Linked DNA regions of Homo sapiens. The protein of the gene in region 1 interacts with the protein of each later gene in a biochemical or structural test. Each region holds a gene or a part of one and is shown on either strand. Other genes may lie near its edges.

The links.
Region 2: the proteins of GPC6 (region 1) and PTPRS form a complex in vitro, tested with the Homo sapiens proteins (one study listed by BioGRID).

What each region holds. Positions count from the first base shown.
Region 1 is NC_000013.11:93,229,784-93,233,606, forward strand, and holds part of GPC6 (glypican-6 precursor), read left to right. Parts: intron 1-3,823. UniProt on the Homo sapiens protein: Cell surface proteoglycan that bears heparan sulfate. Putative cell surface coreceptor for growth factors, extracellular matrix proteins, proteases and anti-proteases. Enhances migration and invasion of cancer cells through WNT5A signaling.
Region 2 is NC_000019.10:5,334,202-5,338,024, reverse strand, and holds part of PTPRS (receptor-type tyrosine-protein phosphatase S isoform 1 precursor), read left to right. Parts: exon of another isoform or gene 1-568; intron 569-685; exon of another isoform or gene 686-777; intron 778-1,069; exon of another isoform or gene 1,070-1,163; intron 1,164-1,250; exon of another isoform or gene 1,251-1,337; intron 1,338-1,461; exon of another isoform or gene 1,462-1,530; intron 1,531-3,823. UniProt on the Homo sapiens protein: Cell surface receptor that binds to glycosaminoglycans, including chondroitin sulfate proteoglycans and heparan sulfate proteoglycan.

The DNA.
Region 1 (3,823 bases):
GTCCTTTGATGCTGGTAGACATAATCAAGATGCAGGTCACCACAGGGTCAGAGGCACATTTAATAGGAAAATAATGAATTGAAAGATAATTGTGTTTTTTAAGGATATACTTGTTTTTTCAAAATCAACTTTACTTAATGCTACCTATTGCTGTTTTAATAATCACTTAGGAAATATACCCTGTTGTTACAGGAACACACTCTATCTCTCCTCCCTAGTTCTTGATACTGTTTACATTTAATTATCTAGTGTAAGTGGTTATCTTTTCTTAAACTCTTTTTTATCCTTTGCCTTGATTGGGCATCTAATGGTTTGCTTGAAGAATTTCATGTGTCTTCAATCTGCCAGGGCACATAAATTTAAAAGAATTGCTGTTCAGACTTCAGATTCATGACAGCTGTTTCTAATTGAAAGCTATTTGCAGGTAGCTTGCTTAGTGAAATAACTTGAGAAGTAATAAGGACATTATGTTTCATCATGACATTATCAAAGTTTTACTCAGAACTCACAATTGTGAAATAGTGTTGCCCTTTTCTATTCTAGGATAGAATGGAAACCCAACAGATGAGGAAGTATCACAGGTAATATATAAAGTTATGCTTTCAGAGAATGCTTGGGAAGGAGGAGGCCTTCAAGGGGCAGTTTGCACCATCAGTTTTCACTCAGCACTGATTTTAAACCATGGCAAGGAGATCAGATAGACTATTTATCCTTGTTTGAAAAACTTCCAAAGGAGTAGACTCTTGATCCCCTTTCAGCAATCCATTCTAATATTTAGCAATTCTTGTGGTATAGAAATGTTTCCAGATATCTAGCCAAAAGCCTTCACAATATGCTTGCTTATTTTTTCTTGTTCTATCCTCTGGGAAGATACTGAGCAGTGAATCATCAGGTTCTTTGTTAGGAGAGTTACTCTCATCAAAGGTCAGTGTGAAACATTCTAGTCTTTCCTCATTCATCAGAATTATGACCTAAGTTTCCAATCCTCCTCATGTTGGTGGCTCTAAACTTCTAAAGGAACTCTACCACTGAAAATAGCACCTGCTTAAAACTCTGGGAAATTCAGAGAATGTTGTTTCAGGCTTACTCTGCCACTGTTTTATGCCTTGAGTCTTGCTAGGATCATTAATTATAACACTTTGTAGTTAACAGTGACTTATTGGCCTACATGATCATGTTTTCATTACTTATGTAATGTGACATTATTTAACAATCTCTTATATAGAATTTACTATGTGCCCATCACCTACTTAAAAATTATTACCTTTATAATATCACCTTACTGAATTCTTCCAATAACTTAGTAGATACTACACATTAACCCCATTTTATAGATAAAAAGGCTGTGTGACAGGAACTTTAATAAACTTACCTAAGGGTGACTCTACTAGTAAGTAATGAGGCTGCAGTTCAAACCCAGGCACTCTGACTCCAGGGTCTATATACCTAACTTGGCTCACTGCCTTACAGTATTAAACATTCACCATTTATTTTGAATGAATGCATGCAAAATCTATTCTTTCCTCATTTCATATATATATATATACGTATATATATATATACATATATATATATACGTATATATATATATATATACATATATATATATATATGTATATATATATATATATATATATATACGTATATATATATATATAGTCTGGTATTATTAATCACTATATACATATATGTATCCCTTCCAGTTTTGCATGCTAAATACGTTTCTATTTTGTTCCAACGTCTCTAATTCTCAATATCACTTTGACTTTGGATTTTGTATTCTCAGGAATTGGCCATGCTACCACCATTAAATGGTTCATGCGTTTATGCCTTTTTCTGAACGTTTTCTGGCAAGATATAGTTACATAAAACACAGAAACTAAAGTACATGTCTTGGTTTCTTTCAGTATACTAGGCCTATTGAAATATTGGGTTAGTCCAACAAAGCTCATGCTGGAAAGTTATTCATGGGGCTAGAGGGAGTAAGAACATTTATCTCCACAGATTAGAAAAAAAAATGTAACTAGCTCTGTTTTCAGTATTTATTTTGCAACTTTTTCTGTCCCAGGTATTTTGAGAGTTGGGTTACAGCTGGATATTAAAAAAGCACTAAAGTCTTCATCTATTTGATATTAATTTATCAAGTATTTATCTAAAAATCTACAGTTTAAAAAGATTATTTGCTTGTTTCAAAATACATAATGTTTCCTTTTCACTGATCTTTGCCCAGTGGGCGTTTCCTTTCTCTGGAAACCTGTCTTTCTGTCTGCTCCCCCGGCAAACCAACTAATTTAATACATTTACAATTTACACAACTTTTTTTTTTTTTTCCAGTTTCCATGGAGATATCACATTAACTTAAATGGAAAACAGTGTTTGGTAACTCTTACTCTTTAAAGCCACAGTAAATATCGTAGTTTGAGATAAATTGTTTAATTTCTGTTTATCTGCCTGGTTCAAAGATTTCTTATTTCTTTGCCCCCTGTTTAGTTAGCTGATTTCTTTAAAAGTTTTTGGAAGGACAGTGTAAGTCACAAATGAGTGAGGTGAACTTCAATTTTTGTTTTTGTAATGATTCTACAAGTCACTAGATTTCTAAAAGAATCACATTAATTCCAGGTATCAAAGCAATCTAAAAGTTGGGCTATTAGAAGCGTCACTTGTTAAACTCTTGATTTGGGCATTAATTTTAGAGCGATTGTGAGTTATCTTAGCTGATTTAATTAGAGGATAATATGTCATCATTGGGAACAAGAGTTCATTTGAGTTGACTGATATACTTTTTTACATAAAATATCTCTCAACTGCATTGTATCTTAATAATAGCTTGTGAGTAGAAATATAGGCCACTGTCAAAATTGATTTAAAATGTACAGCATTATGTTCTTTAAGTATTATGGCATAAAGATTGTGCCATAAATTATGTAAGAAAGTGACTAGTGTTCTTTTAAAATTATGGATGAAATTTACGAACACTTATAAAACACAAAATTATTGAGTAGTTCTAACCTAAAATGACCTAACTTCAATCACTAGTTTTGTATAGAAATCTGAGTTTAGGGTAAACATTATAATAAATTAATTGCTTTAAAAATGATTTTAATCTTTTGATCTTATATTGAAACCCACAAAAATAACAGTATAAGAACAACCTTTACCCCCACTTAATTCACATCTTTCAAATTACTTCTAGAAAGGCCAGTAAGGTGATTTAGATTTATCTTGCCAGTATAAACAGTGATTTAATATTCTTTTAAACTTGGTGATTTTATTTCTTTACAGACTAAATTCTGCTATGTTAAATTCTTGAGCTGGTACATAATTTAACTTTAAATATTTTCATAGATTTCTCCAGTATTATTCAATTTTCAATGATATATATAGTACAGTTTGAAAGTACTATTGACTCCCTGGGATCATATATTTGTAATAAAGGGTTCCATAGTGGTGAGACTTGGGTAAATATTTTAAAATTCTAATAATCCTGGATGAAAATATCTAAGAATTTTTAATAACCGTGGATGAAAAATATGTTTTAAATGAATGTGCCAGTTAGTAGCCAAAAAAAAAAAAATCAAAATTTGGTTTCACACTTTCACATTATTCAGGTTATTGGGTATTTTAATAACCCATTCTCTCTTTCTTCTAGGCATTTTTTTCTTCATGCAATGAGTATTTATTGTATACCTACTATGGGTAAGTCATTGTACCAGGTTCTGGGGGTAGAACCCCAGGGAATTTGAATCCCAGCAGGGAAGCAGAAATTAAGGACACCATTCACAATGAATTAATTCCAACTGAGATAAATGCATAGCACTAAGGA
Region 2 (3,823 bases), on another chromosome or scaffold:
GGACGATTTCCCCCTCTCCAGGAAACCTTGAGAGCCTCTGAAGTCTGCGTGAGGTGGCGACAGAGAAGGGGACATTCAAACCCCAGGTTCCTGCCTGCTGCCAGCAGAGAAAAAAAAATCACTCCTTATACCCCGGTTGAGCGTTCAGTGCGCCTTTTTTCCCTGCCTCCCAGGGGATTTCAGGCATCGTCCAGTGTCCATGGACCCTGCTTGGAGACACAAGTCCATTTTCCCCCAATTTCCACCATGGAACAGGGGGAAGCTTCGTGGATGCCAGGGATTTCGTGGTAGCATCTGGGTGGGGAGACCTGGAGCCATCACTGTGCACCCATTTTTTTCTTCTTTGGGTCGCATAGAGCCTGGGGCTCTGCCTGGGTTTCCCCAGACCTGGTACCAGTCTGGAGGCAAATCTATCTCTGCTCATCAAACGTCTTTCTGGGAGGTGACTTGGTTTCCCCTTCTGCCTTCGGGGTTGGCGTTGAACAGCGGTTCACAGATGTCTGAGGGCAGCGCACACCTCCACTTGCCAAGATGGGGAGACCTGTGGCTTCGCTGATTATTCCAGCGGCTGCATGGCCCCAATACAATAGTTAGTGGGATGGCCGGAGAGGGACGGGCAGGGACGGTGTGACTTGGTGGTGCGACGTGGCATTTCTACCCGAGCGCCCCGTGGCCCCGCGTTCACCTGCTTTCTGTGACGGTGCAGCCGCCGTGTGCGTGGGGGAAGAAGCGGGGCGTGGAGAGAGTTCGGGATGGGGGCGAGCGGGAGGGAAAACCCTAAAAATAAAAAGGGATATTTATAAACCCAGCGGGTTTGGGGGATAATTGACAAAGCTTAATGTTTTTCGGCTGAGAGCAATTCCTTCCCCCTGCTACCCATTAAGCTCCATTTGCAGAGTCGGTCGGAGCCACGGGAAGATCTTGAGATGAGCTTTAGGTTTGGCGGGCGCAGTGCTGACCGCTGTAGCCCCCTTCTGGGAGGGTCTCGTACTTTCTGGAAGGAGACAGGGGTCCCAGAAAGGGGCACTCCCCAGCTCTCCTCTGCATCCAGGGTAGGCTCCTGGCTCACCTTCCAATGGGTGGGTGTCCTCTTAGAATTTGCAAGGAGGATGAGAACCCTTCTCGGGCAAAGCCTGTGCAGGTTGCCCTTCCTCCGTCCTTCCCTGCGGCAAAAGATGCCCAGGGAGGGGAATTTGAAGAGAGACCCTCCCCCCCACCACCCGCCGCCGCCCCACCCTCCAACCGCTCACCAGGCAGAGTGGCTCAGCCTCCGGTGGGGACAGGAGGAGAGGAGATTAAGACATAACTGCTGTTCCTCGCAGGATTCGTGTGGCAAGCTGATACAAAACAAAACAAAAAAACCAAAAATTCACCATGGATTCACGGACCAAGGCACGTATCCGGGGCTTGAAGGTTTCAAGGGCTTTTTAAACTGTGAATTTTGTCATTTTCACACCTTACCTTGCTCTGGAATCGGAAAGCTGCCAGCTTGTGGCTTGCGGGGCAGAGGAGAGGGGATGCTGGAAGGGGATTGAGGCTCAAATGCATGTCATCTTATCACCAGGTGACATTCTGAATTGAGGAAGGGGGACACGGAGAGAGGAAGTGAAGTGTAGGGGATGTGATCGAGGGAAAGGGTGGCTGTTGTCTCACGCAGAGAGTGGCAGCCCCAAAATGTCTAGGAAACAGGTGACACCTGGGTCTCTCTAACCCTGAGGTTCAAGAGTGTGGAGTGTGTGGTTTCCCCCCCGCCCCCCCCCCTTTTCCTTTAAGGAAAGAAAAGACTCTCAACCAAAAAGGGAAGAAAAAAAAAAACCCGACGTACCATTTCTGTCTTGTCTCTGGCTGATATTTGAGAAGCGCTGGGGAGGGGGTTGTGTGTGGGGAATTTGAAAAATCAATTGGCTTACACTTCTCCAAAGGCGAAAATTAACGGGTAGGAGTGATTCACGGACAGGCCCTCCACTTTCACATCGCTTTATTTTTGTCTCTCTCTTTTTTTTTTTTCCTCCTCCTCCTCCTCCATGGAGCTGCCGGTCCCCCAACATCGTGGCCTGGCCAGACTGGACCTTGGGGCTGGTGCTATTCTGGGCTAGCCGTGGAATCCCCTCTTCTGTTCCCCGGAATCAAGGCACCCTCTGCGCCCCGCAGAGGCCGAGGGGATATTCCACATCTGAAAATAAACCCAGGTTTCTGTGCGGCTTCCTGTTTCCTTCTGATTCCCGCGGATCCCACCCTGGTTGGGGGTTCAGAGCCTGGATTTTTGGATCATGGGGACTCCCTCCTCCGGTCCCCATCGCCGTAACTGGGGCTGGATCACAAATGTCCCGTTTCATGGGGACAGATTTCATCTCGTACTCTTTATGTTATCTGGGTGGCCTTGCTCCTTTTAAGTTGTTTTTGATCTTTGCCATAAGCCCCTTATAGGAAGGGCCAGCTGTCTCCTGTTCCCCCTACCTGGAGAACTGAAAATTCCCCTTTTTCTCCCAGATCTCACCTGCCTGCCTGCCTTCCTTCCTTCCTGGATGACTTCCCCTCTTCCCTTTCAGTTCTCCGTGCAGGAGCTTCCTCACTTACAGAATGAGGTTACCCCTCTGGGTTCCAGGTCAGAGCCCTGACTTGAGCCACCCTCCTCACTTGAGCTGTGCAAACTAGGGCGGGTTGCCTGACCTCTCTGTGTTCTCTCATCTCTAAGATCAGTACAGTCGCAGTCTGCGTCGCGGCGAGCCTTGACATGAGATGCTGTGGGTAAACATGCCTCCCCTGGCTCTCAACGCGTCCGCAGTCAGTCGCATGCATCCTTCCTTCCGCTCCTGGACACCCAGAGGGGTATCCGGCGGGCGGAGAAGCCATGGCTCTGGAAGCCTGGGACCCTCGGATGAGGCAGGCTGTGGGGAGAGAGGCTGGGAGGATGGCCCATCGTCGCGCTGTCACGTGGGTAATTGAGAGTTTGCGGAAATTCAGGGGTTCTGGGGAAGCGAGGTTGGCGCGTCTGTGTGTGTATAATTTAATGCCGCTTATAATTAACCCCCGTGATCAGCAAATGAGGGGATGTCGGGGGGATAATAACAGCTGCTCCGACTATTTAGAGTTGGCGCCCCGTGCCAGGCCCTCTGCTAAGTAAGCAAGTCAGTAGCATCCTTGTCTCCTCCAACCTGCCGTCCCCTGTCAGCGGAGTTGCTGTGATCTGAGCCCTATTTTGCAGAGAGGGAAACTGAGGCACAGGGAGGGGCCTTCACTGGCCTGAGGTCACTTCACACAGCCCACAAGCTGTTGGCTGCCACAACCTGGATTCCTAACGCCTGGAAGGAGCTCTGCCCGATTGTCAGGGATGTTTGTTTGGACAGCAGTCCATCTGCTGCGGGGGCCACCTGAATCGCTACAGAGACACCCCCCGCACACACACACCCCAGGGCTCTTGACTGCCTTTTCTCAGAGGTTAAGAGCAAGGATGCTGGACTGAGGCTGCATGGGGTTCAAATCCCGGCTCTGCCGACTTGTTGGCTGTGTGACCTGGGGCAAGTTGCTCAACCTCTCTGTGCTTCCGTCTTCCTCATCTGTCTATGGAGAAGAGTAACAGTGCCCACCTTGAGGGATTGTTAGGAGGAAGAAATGAGTTAACGTGTGTAAGCACAGATTCAGAACGGCACCTAGAATGTAGCTGCCACCTCTATTCTGTTTTTGTTATTATTTTTGACAACATGGGAGCTACACTGATATGTTGAAGGACCTGCCCAAGAGGGGCTCTCCAGTGTCCACCCGCGCCCCGCTACCCCGCCCTCAGCCCCCCGATGGGGTCCAGCACCAGGGAGATGTCAGGATG